Linked DNA regions of Homo sapiens. The protein of the gene in region 2 interacts with the protein of the main gene of each other region in a pairwise test. Each region holds a gene or a part of one and is shown on either strand. Other genes may lie near its edges.

Region 1 (3,748 bases), on a different chromosome or scaffold from region 2:
ATACATTTATTCATAAAAGAAACATATATTTCCACACACTCAATTTAAATGGAAAAAATGGAGTAATCATTCGAAACAGCTCAATAATATATCTGAAATCAAAACACTTTTGCCCCAGTTATCCTGCTGCAAATAGTTGTATCCTAAATATCCCAGATATTTAACTCAATTACTTAACTGCTCTAGTATATTCTTAACTAGTAACCACGACATCAACTTCAATAGTTAAACTCCAACTTTAGATGAATATTTGGCTTATATTTCAAATATTTTGAAAGGGTTCAAGCATATAATCACAAAAAACTACTATATGTAAATTGTAATTTAATATTTAAATAAATAATAAAAATAAAATTTACTAGTTCTTTATCTTGTATTTTTCTAAGGCTCCTTAGATCATACTTTACACAAAATTAGGTTATGTAACTAATCAGTAAATATATAGTCCTTTTTATTAGTTTGTTTTTTACTTGGAATTTGTGAGGAAATTTATGCTCCTATTTCTTCCCACTACGTAGGAAAGTTTAATATAATGCTTTTACTTTAGAGCCGTCTTTCTTTTAGATAGATATTACAAAATGTTCACTCTATGTGGAAATCCTACTGATAAATTCTTGGTTTTAAAAGATTTTCCACAAAATCCAATTTGTAATATTTTATTATTATAAATCATATATGATAGATGGTATAAAAATAGTTGAACTTCTATTTAAGTTAGTATAGATATCTTAACCGATTTTTTCTATGTCTTCTACCTCAAACACAGTTCATCTTATGGAGTATACACTATTTTTAATTTGCCCTCTTTTGAATAAAGGCAGTGTTAAGATCCTTCCTCATTTTAAGTTGTTTTTAAGAATCATATTTTATAATCTCAAAAACTATCAAACAACAAATATGTAAGGACTGAACTGATTGCATATTAAGCCAGTAAGTCATAAAAACGTTCATTAATGCTTACATTTGAAGAAAATATGGTTTTAGTCAATAAGGAACAACGTAATGTGGTTTTCATTTGTATTGCAAATCCTTCACCAGTACTTGTATAAGTCTCTATACTAAAAATTCAGTGAAAAAAATTCTGGGTTAAATTCTAATTGGTTTTTTAAACTTTCCCAAAAAGTTTGAGGAAGAAGTAAATTGTGAAAATCAAAGATCCTGAAGACGCTGGCTGTTAAAACGTCAACAGGTGCTTCAGTGTACCCTGCGGGCGAGTCTCACCACTGCAGCGTGAGCTGTGTCTGCTTCTTTTTATCCTTCACAATCTGCGTGATGGTTTTCTTCTGAGACAGGTATTGATCCGCTGCTTTGGTTTTGCTGTCGTGGTTGTCGGCGTCCTCTTCTTCAGAGGAAAAGTTACCATTGTTTAAGTGCATTTCTGATTGCCAGTTGAAGGGATGATAAAGAAAAATAGAATATAAAATCAACTAAGTCGCCTTTAAGTGTACCTTAACTTCAAAGGAGTAGCCTACTGGGGTGGGGGCGGAGGGGAGGAAAGGGGGGCTATGCAAAATGTCAGGTCTCTACTTGACATTTTACTGAGGAAATACAAAGATTTGGACAGAACATTCTATATCTGCCTTATGTTTGTTCGGGATGCATTATTATTATTGGGTGCCCTTCTTAGAATACGTCCCCGTCCCCTTCCCAGCTCCGGATGCGGCAGAGCACTCACCTGATTTCACTGCCCCCGGCAGCTCCGGGTCTTCGCCTTTCTCCCCGCCGCCCTGCTCGCCCCCGGGCTGCCCTTCGGCCGCCAGGTACACTGTTTCTTCCGGATAGACTAGCAAGCCCTTGCCCAGGAGCTGCACACAGCAGTCTTCCTGGATCCCCGGGGACAGTTGGGGCGCAGGCTGCGCCTGCAGGAAGGTGTCTTCCAGCTCCGGGACCTTGGCCATCCTCCTGGCCGCCGGACACCTCCGCGCGCGCCGCTCGGCCGGTTCCCCAGCGGAGCCCCAGCCCGGGGCGGGGCGGGGCGGGGCTGGGACCCGGGGCCGCAGGGGCGGGGAAGGAGGCCGCAGGCTCCGGGGTGCCCTGGCTCAGCGCAGAAAGGACGCCGCGCACAGGTACAGCCCAGGCCGCCCGGGAGCCGCGGTGGGCCGCGGTGGGACTGCGTTTCTCCACCTGTCTGCGGTCCCGGCAGATGCTCCCGCGAAACTCACTTTCTCACCTGCGCCTGTCACGCCCTGGGCGCCCACAGCTTCCCCCTCCTTCCCGTTCTCTCAACCTGCGCTGGCCGGAGGACCGTTTTCACACTCAGAGCTCCCAGAAAGATCCCGGGAAGGCTCACTGTCTTCTGCAGGGAAAGTGCAGCTGTAACTGGCCCCATCCCTACTTTCAGGTACACTATTGGGGCACCTGGCCGCGCGGCGTGGACTCTGCACGCCTGGGACAGGGAAAAAGTACACCGGAGTACCGCTCAGTCTTTGCACAGCAGGGACCGGGCTTTTTATTCTGGGAACCTTCCGAGGGATTGGCGAGGGCTCTTCTCAGCATTTGAGGGAAGATCCCATCTCGTCACACACTGCTTTGCTCGAGGGTGCACAGTGGCCCGCACTCCTGGGTCTCCCAGCCCTGGAGGATCTGGCCTCAACCCCGAGAAAAGATTCTTTCTCTCCCATTTACCATTATTTTGTAATTTAAACGCGTCCCTGACGATTACTCATCTCATACCTAGCAGTACGGCAACGGACGTTTGCTTAAGTGAAAAATGAAATTGCGACCATCTTCCAACCCAAAATGGCAATCTCATGGGGGCAAACTATAATCTGTGCTCTCTTTAGACGGGAGCGGTCAGTGGAGACTTGGGATTGGTGTTACCTGACTGCCAGATCATCTTCCTTTCCTTCCACCTTCTGTTCTTTTGACAAATACGCCCAGTGTCTTTATATGTCCAGTGCTCTCCAACAAAAGCAAGGATTCTGCTTTGGATCACATTGCCTCATCACAACCTACAGCATGTCATCTTCTCTTGCAGCATTAGAGAGAGAAATCAGCCTTCGACTTTGACAATATTAAACTACATTACATTGAAATTTAACATAGAACAAACAAAATGGGATCCAAGGTGGTGGGTGGCTGAAGGGTGAATTATGGGAAGGAGCGATACAGTCTAAGTAATACAGCAAAAGCAGCTAAAATTATGAGTGGATTTGAATCTCCCCATTTTTAGTACCACTTGTTGGGAAAGGCAGCAACTCTTTGTCAAAGGTTTTCACCTTATCTGGTACCTCCAGCAGCTAGATCCAGGATGGGGCTACCCACCCCTCCACACTCCTAAAGTGGGTATACCCCTCCAGTGCTTCAGGACAACTTTGCCAGTTTTCTCTACCCAGTCCTCCGAAAGCCTCAGAGCCTGCTCAGACCAGAGGGCTTAGCTGTATGTACAGTACTAAAGTTTAGAATGTTGCCTCTTTACAGAGATACCCTCAGATTCATTCTGTAAAGGGAGTCCCAGTGATTAACTGTGTCTACTTATATGAAATGATAAGAAGAAAAATGTTCAGGAAAATTACTGGAATTTCTTTTTTAAAATACTAACCATATGATAATGTGTTTGTGTGTGTGTGTGTGTGTGTGTGTGTGTAAGTCATACAGACACTACGTGAAAATCTGGCAATTATCCAATTGAACAGATCATTGGAAACAAAAACCACGATCAGTTAAGGCCCTAAGTGAACTTTTTGCCTTAATTTTAAGTAAATCTGTTTGCCTAACAAAATAATGTGAAAGTTATTTGTGCTTCTAT
Region 2 (3,748 bases):
AAAAACTTACTTGAGCCTTTCCAGTTATTCTCTATCCAGGAAGTATCTTGAGTCTTGAACTTCCACGCCTTCCTCTAAATCCAGGGCCGGTTCCAGCAACAGCTGGCAAACGAGCTGTCACCGTCACGGGAGAAGACTTAAGGTCACTATCCTTTCTCCTGCCCCCATGAAAGCCATCTGAGACATGGGGGAGTGGGTTTTCAAGGGTGTCAGGCTTTTGGGGGTCAGCCTGCATATTCTCATGTTTTATAGCCCACTTTATTCTTTACATAATAAAGGAGCCAGTTTGTGGCCGGGTGCGGTGGCTCACGCCTGTAATCCCAGCACTTTGGGAGGCCGAGGCGGGTGGATCACAAGGTCAGGAGATCGAGATCATCCTGGCTAACATGGTGAAACCCCGTCTCTACTAAAAATACAAAAAATTTAGCCCGGCATGGTGGCGGGAGCCTGTAGTCCCAGCTACTCGGGAGGCTGAGGCAGGAGAATGGTGTGAACCCAGGAGGAGGAGGTTGCAGTGAGCCGAGATCGCATCACTGCACTCCAGCCTGGGCGATAGAGTGAGACTCCATCTCAAAAAAACATAAACAAAAAAAAAAAATAAAGGAGCCAGTTTGTAGGAAACGGGCCAGCTTTGCCCTGGCACCCAGCAGGTATGCAACAACTGTGAGAGTGCCAGCTCAGAACACCCAGCCCCAGCACACAGGGACCAGGCCTGGCTCTCACACCCCAGTGGGTGCTCAGGCGATCTAGTGGGAACTGGCAGCAGCCGCCCTATCCCCAAAGAAAGGGGGCTGCTGAGATAACTGCAGGGAAAGGGGGCACGACATCTGTGGAAAAGGCCTTTGCCGTTTTCAGATGTGTTGCATGAAATCTGCAGGGCTCGGGGGAGCCCAGGCCGTGCTCTCAACAGGACAGCAACGGGGCGGGCAGATGTGGGGCCTTCCTCCACAACCAGCAAGTACTCCAGGGTTCTTTCTTTTCTTTTCGAGATGGAGTCTCGCTCTGTCACCCAGGCTGGAGTGCAGTGGCACAATCTCGGCTCACTGCAAGCTCTGCCTCCGGGGTTCACGCCATTCTCCTGCCTCGGCCTCCTGAGTAGCTGGGACAACAGGCGCCCGCCACCACGCCCAGCTAATTTTTTTCTATTTTTAGTAGAGACGGGGTTTCACCGTGTTAGCCACGATGGTCTCGATCTCCTGACCTCGTGATCCGCCTGCCCCGGCCTCCCAAAGTGCTGAGATTACAGGCGTGAGCCACCGTGCCCAGCTCTTTTCTTTCTCTAAGAATCCTCTGGCATTCTGCGGGGTGCCCGTGAGAAGGTGCCGGGCAGCATGGCGCATCTGTGTGTGAAACAAGAGGCCACGGCACACCCTCTGCTTCCTCAGAAGGAGCAAGATGTGGACACAATGAGCCACGAGGAACATGTGAACGACGCTCAAAGCCGTGTCACATAAAAACACAGTGATCCACACGAGGACGCAGCCAAGGCGGCCCCAGCACTGCCCAGGGAAGATGAGTCCCACAGGCCCCGGCCACACCACCCTGTCGTCCACTCCTGGGACACGCTGGTCACCACCTGGCGAGGGCCTGAGAAATGCACACGACACGCCAGCCGCGCTCGGGACTCCAGGAGGTGTGGACGGTGTGGACAGCCATAAAGTGAGGTCCTTTCAGTTTCTGTGACAGCCAATGATGTTCCTTTTTTTTTTTTGGAGATGGAGTCTCGCTTTGCCGCCCCAGGCTGGAGTGCAGTTGCGTGATCTTGGCTCACTGCTACCTCTGCCTCCTGGGTTCAAGTGATTCTCATACCTCAGCCTCACAAGCAGCTGGCTTTACAGACATGCGCCACCAAGCCCAGCTAGTTTTTGTATTTTTGGTCGAGATGGGGTTTCACCATGGTGGCCAGGCTAGTCTCAAACTACTGATCTCAAGTGATCCACCCGCCTCAGCCTCCCAGAGTGCTGAGATTACAGGCGTGAGCCACTCTGCCCGGCCCCAATGATGTTTAATTTAACTTCTGAAGCTGCCAATACATCTACATGATTCAAAGGTACATACAGACGGACTCATACCTTCAAGAGGTCCTGGGAAGGTGGCCGCTTCCACCCCTGCTCTGGACTGCCTGAGCCCTAACCCCATCTCCTACCCGGAAGCATTTGTGTTGGTTGTTTTGGTGTTTGTCCATTGGCTGACGGTGTGAGTGTGCGTGTGTGCAAGGGCACAGTCTCCTCTTGCCTGCATTTTCACAGAGGCACATCCCATGCGCCCAGCTCCATACTTGGCTTTGGCAGCTCATGGGCGGTCTCTCCTAGCAGCAATGGCGCCCAGATGCCAGGTCACGAGGGGCTGCGCTCTGTCCAGTATGCGTCACTGCAAACCTCACTGTGACGCGAACGCGGGACTCGCACCCTCTCCTGGCCCCTCCCCCACCGAGCACCACATCCCGATGCTCCTGCCCAGCACAAGTGACCCCGTGGCCCCCGCTGTCCCCTCCTGGCTTGGTCAGCCCCACTCTGGTCCCCTCCTATTACTGGTGCCCTGCGCATGAACACCCTCTCGTTTTATCAGATTCTGCAGGCTCCTGACTGATGCCGTCACCAGGAACAATTCCAGCACCAGCCTGTCCCACTCATCCTGCTGTGGGATGACTCAAAAGTTGGAAAATTCTTTTTATTTTTGAGACAGGGTCTTGCTCTGTTGCCAAGGCTGGAGCGCAGTGGTGTGATCATAGTTAAGTACAGCTTCGACCTCCCGGGCTCAAGCTATGCTCCTGCCTCAGCCTCCCAAGTAGCTGGGACAACAGGCGCATGCCACCACACCTGGCTAATGTTTTTTAGTAGAGAGGGGGTCTTACTATGTTGCCTAGGCTGGTCTCGACCTCTCAGGCTCACGTGATCCTCTGCCCTGGCCCCCACAATGCTGGGATCACAGGTGGGAGCCACTGCACCTGGCCTGATGCTGGGATCACAGGTGGGAGCCACTGCACCCGGCCTGGAAAGTTCTTTATGGTGCCTTTGACCCATTCCTCCTAACGTCCCCCCAGCCTCTCCACTGCACCATGGGCCACAGTTGTGTTTGAAGGTGGCTATGACACATCCGCCAATCTCTTCAAAGCAAAGCATCTCCAGGCCTCTCACCCCTGCAAGACTTCACAGTACCACCTGCTGTAGGGTAAAGTGTCACCATGTATGTGCACTCCTCATGTCAGAGTCTAACAAACAGATGGAATAAAATGCTTCTAAATCAAGGAGGAAACCACACCATCTGTCTTACTGGCCTTAAGAGGTTACTAAGCTTTTCAGCAAATTTCTCATCAATGATGGAAGGCAAGAGTACCTAACCCACAACAAGCTACGGAAGTACCTATCAGCCAGGCACAATGGCGCACACCTGGAGCCCCTGCACTGTAGGAGGCTGAGGTGGCACTTGAGCCCAGGAGTTCAAAACCAGCCTGGGCAACATGGCAAGACCTTATCTCTACAAAAATTAAAAAAAAAAAAAAAAAAAAAAAAGCCAGGCCTGGTGGTGCATGCCTTTAGTCCCAGCAATTCGAGAGGCTGAAGCAGGAGGATCACTTGAGCCTGGGATTTCCAGGCTGCAGTGTGCCACGATCAGGCCACTGCACTCCAGCCTAGGTGATAGGGCAAGACCCTGTCTCTTTAAAAAAAAAAAAAAAGTAGCTACATCAGACACTAAAAGGCTGAGCAGCACATCCTGCGTTTGTTTTTGGGACAAAGTGTGGCAGCCT
Region 3 (3,748 bases), on a different chromosome or scaffold from region 2:
GACCATCCTGGCCAACATGGCGAAACCCCGTCTGTACTAAAAATACAAAAATTAGCCGGGTGTGATGGCCGGCGCCTGTAATCCTAGCTACTCGAGAGGCTGAGGCAGGAGAATCGCTTAAACCGGGAGGCGGAGGTTGCAGTGAGCCGAGATGGCACCACTGCACTCCAGCCTGGGCAACAGAGCGAGACTCCAACTCAAAAAAAAAAAAAACAAAAAAAACGACATTTCTACTTTTTGGCGATTATGAATAATGATGCTATGAACATGGGCGGACAAGCTTTATGTGAACATACGTTATCAGTTTTCTTGGGTATATAGCCAGGAGTGGGCTTGCTGGGTCATAGACTAATTCTAATGCTTAATGTTTTGAGGAACTACCAAACTATTTTCCACCATTTTACATCCCCACCAGCAATGTACGAGAATTTCACTATTACATTTTCAACAAATGAGGATAATTCTTGAACGAACAGAGAGGTATGCTGCCACCGCAGAACGACAACCCACTACCCAGAAGACTGTATTAACAAAGCAGAAGTATATGTCCGGCAGGAAAACGGAGAATAAAATGTTGCAGGTCCAAGTGTATTAGGCAAGTGAGTTAACCTCGCAGAGCCCCGGTTCCTTATTCGAAAACAAAAAAAAGGGCCGCTGTAATGCCATTTTACCTTGCAGTCGCCGTGAAAATTAAATCAGTCAATCCGCGTAAAGGTACTTTACAACACTGATTATTCATGATTCGATCTCAGGCAAGGCATTAGGGGCAAACAGCTAAATGCCCAGATCCCTCCTCCTCGCAAAGGTTCCTTCCCCTCGGGAGGGTCCCTGAGCGGCATCGGGGGCTGCAGCCACTTCCCTTCCCCGGGAGAGCCGGCCTGCCAGCCACGCAGGATAAATTGCTAGAGCTGGAGCAGTAGATCCGTGCCACCCCTACCCAGCACCGCTCCCAGGAGAGAGATCTGCAGCCTGCTGCTAAGCTTAGTAAGTCCGCGCAGGATCTTTCTTTTTTAAATGGTAATAAACATATTTTTTGGGGTCGAAGCAGAAAAGGAGGGGCAAAGGGAACACAAGCATGTCCCCCCAACCTCTGATCTTAGTCTCGGTCTCTCCAACACCCCCCGCAACACACCCTCCTCCACATAAGGAAAACAAGTATGAAACCCGATCCTTTACGAACCCCAGCCCCAAGGGCCCTCACCTCCCCGCAAGGACAGAGGGTGCAAAGCTTACCTGGTGGCTTCCTCCGGCTCGACCAGGCTCTGGCCAGGCGCCTCCCGAGGGATAGTAGCCATCGCCTCCTCCGCCTTCTCCCAGCCAGGTGGTCTCCGCCGGGCCGCCCCCGCGCACCCGCCAGGAAATGGGAGGCTGGGGAGGTTCAGGGCGAAGAGGATATAAGGGTGGAGGTGGGTGTACCGGCACATCTCCACCCCCAGGCCCGTAGTAGCGGCCGTAGGACGGACCGTCACTGGGGCCGTAGCCCGAGCGCCTCAGGGCCGACATGGGATCCGCTGCCCTGAAGCGCTTCCCGCCCCGCTCCCCACGGCCGACCCATCGCGCAGGCGCCCGCGGGCGATTGCGAATGGAGAGCAGCGAAGGGGGTCGGACGACGCCAGCCAATCCCAGGCCCGGGCCCGCCCCTTCTGCTGCCGAACCCCGAAAGCTGAGGGACGGAGGTCAGTGACTCTGGGGTCTCGGGAACCCGGAGACGAAGGAAGACACCGTGTTCCTTAAGAGGGAGTATACGTTTCCTCGCCATTTATCCAATGGAGTTTCCTCTTACCTACTTAACAGGAACAGGGAAAGGGTGTCCCCCAACGGTACGGCTGCCCCGCCTCTTCCTGGGGGCCCACACGTGTTACAGGAAGTGGGTAAGGGTAATATGGAGGAGCTTCCGGCAGCCCCCGGCGGCTGAAAGCCGGGGCAGAAGTGCTGGTCTCGGTCGGGATTCCGGGCTTGGTCCCACCGAGGCGGCGACTGCGGTAGGAGGGAAGAGGTTTTGGACGCGCTGGCCTCCCGCCGCTGTGCATTGCAGCATTATTTCAGTTCAAAATGAACTATATGCCTGGCACCGCCAGCCTCATCGAGGACATTGACAGTGAGTAGTTTATCTCCTCCCGGTGGAGCCCGGGGTTAGACCCTTCCTCCCGGGCGGGCGCCTCTTCCGAAGAAGCTTGTAGAATGAGTCCCGGGCGGGGCCGGTGTGTTCTGAGCTCAATCCGGGCGTTCCGCGTCGATGTCCTCCACAGCTGCGGTACACACCGCTTGCCCACCCAGTAGCCTGCTGCTACTTCTGCCCCTCGCAGCCTCCGCCAGCCCTCTAGCTGGTGAGCCCCAAGCGATGGAACTCATTCTTGCTTCCGTGGATCGCGGCAGCAGAGGCCCGAACACGAAAGAAGCCCGGGGAGGGGGGGGGCTTCTCCCCCGTCCACTCCTGCCTGCAGTATTTCGAAGTATCAGCGTGTTACCGGTGGATGGATCGGAATACCTAGAGAGAGGATTCATTAAAAAGCGAAAATATTAAGACAGCGGCAGTTGGACTTAATTGGCAGTAAATGTAGGCGCTCTACGGTGTGGCCATTTGCTAGCTTATTTTACTGTGAGGGTCATTAGCACCTTCAGGTTATTGTAGTAGAGACCACTGTTAGACATGGTATTGACTTTTCTGGAAAGACCAAATCACTTGCAACCTTTTTTTTTTTTTTAAGACAATTTACTTTTGCTTTTACTAAGAAGACCTCCCTTATTCCTGGTTTTTGTCCGGAAGAGGAGCTCAGTCCTATACAAAAGCGAAAAGAACCGTCTGCAGTTGTTCTGGCTTTCCTTTTTTCTAAATTCCGTCTGTGCATTATTCCTCAAGCAACATTTTTTATTGTTTTAATCATGTGATCTTTCTCATTAACTTGTTTCAAGATGATTTACACATAGTTTTAAATAAGTTGCAATCGTCTCAGTTACTCTGTGAATACGCAATTTAGAATCTATGGTTAAAATTTCATTTTACGGGCCTGGCGCGGTGGCTCACGCCTGTAATCCCAGCACTTTGGGGGGCCGAGGCGGGCAGATCGCCTGAGGTCGGGAGTTCAAGACCAGCCTAGCCAACATGGTGAAACCCCGTTCCTACAATTAGCTGGGCACTATGGCGGTGCCTGTAATCCCAGCTACTCGGGAGGCTGAGGCGGGAGAATCGCTTGAACCCGGGAGGAGAAGGTTGCAGTGAGCCGAGATCGCACCATTGCACTCCAGCCTGAGCGACAGAGCAAGACTCCGTCTCAAAAAAAAAAAAAAAATCATTTTATGGTTGACAGATCTTTTTTCTTTTCTTTTCTTTTTTTTTTTTTTTTTTTGAGACAGAGTCTTGCTCTGTCGCCCAGGCTGTAGTGTGCAGTGGCGCGATCTCGACTCACTGGAACCTCCACCTCCCGGGTTTAAACAATTCTTGTGCCTCAGCCTCCCAAGTAACTGGGATTACAGGCGCCTGCCAGCACGCCCAGCTAATTTTTGCATTTTTTGGTAGAGACGAGGTTTCGCCATGCTGGGCAGTCTGGTCTCCAACTCCTGACCTCAGGTGATCCACCCACCTCGGCCTCCCAGAGTACTGGGATTACAGGCGTGAGCCACCGCCTCCGGCCGACAGATCATTTTTTTAAACACAAATTACTTATTGTGCTATGTAAGGGAAATGTAGTGTAATTGGACTAAATATATATTAACATCTATATGAACCTGTTACGTGTAACAGGATGTT

Evidence for each region.
Region 1: the proteins of SS18L1 (region 2) and RFX6 interact in binary tests that used the Homo sapiens proteins (3 or more experiments, as listed by UniProt).
Region 3: the proteins of SS18L1 (region 2) and BAG4 interact in binary tests that used the Homo sapiens proteins (3 or more experiments, as listed by UniProt).

What each region holds. Positions count from the first base shown.
Region 1 is NC_000006.12:116,875,426-116,879,173, reverse strand, and holds the start of RFX6 (DNA-binding protein RFX6), read right to left. Parts: upstream 1,933-3,748; 5' UTR 1,899-1,932; coding exon 1,676-1,898; intron 1,379-1,675; coding exon 1,222-1,378; intron 1,212-1,221; exon of another isoform or gene 964-1,211; coding exon of another isoform or gene 962-963; intron 1-961. UniProt on the Homo sapiens protein: Transcription factor required to direct islet cell differentiation during endocrine pancreas development. Specifically required for the differentiation of 4 of the 5 islet cell types and for the production of insulin.
Region 2 is NC_000020.11:62,167,744-62,171,491, reverse strand, and holds part of SS18L1 (calcium-responsive transactivator), read right to left. Parts: intron 1-3,748. UniProt on the Homo sapiens protein: Transcriptional activator which is required for calcium-dependent dendritic growth and branching in cortical neurons. Recruits CREB-binding protein (CREBBP) to nuclear bodies.
Region 3 is NC_000008.11:38,174,625-38,178,372, reverse strand, and holds the start of BAG4 (BAG family molecular chaperone regulator 4), read right to left. Parts: upstream 1,519-3,748; 5' UTR 1,504-1,518; coding exon 1,234-1,503; intron 1-1,233. Other genes in the region: U6 snRNA-associated Sm-like protein LSm1, read left to right, coding at 2,053-2,098. UniProt on the Homo sapiens protein: Inhibits the chaperone activity of HSP70/HSC70 by promoting substrate release. Prevents constitutive TNFRSF1A signaling. Negative regulator of PRKN translocation to damaged mitochondria.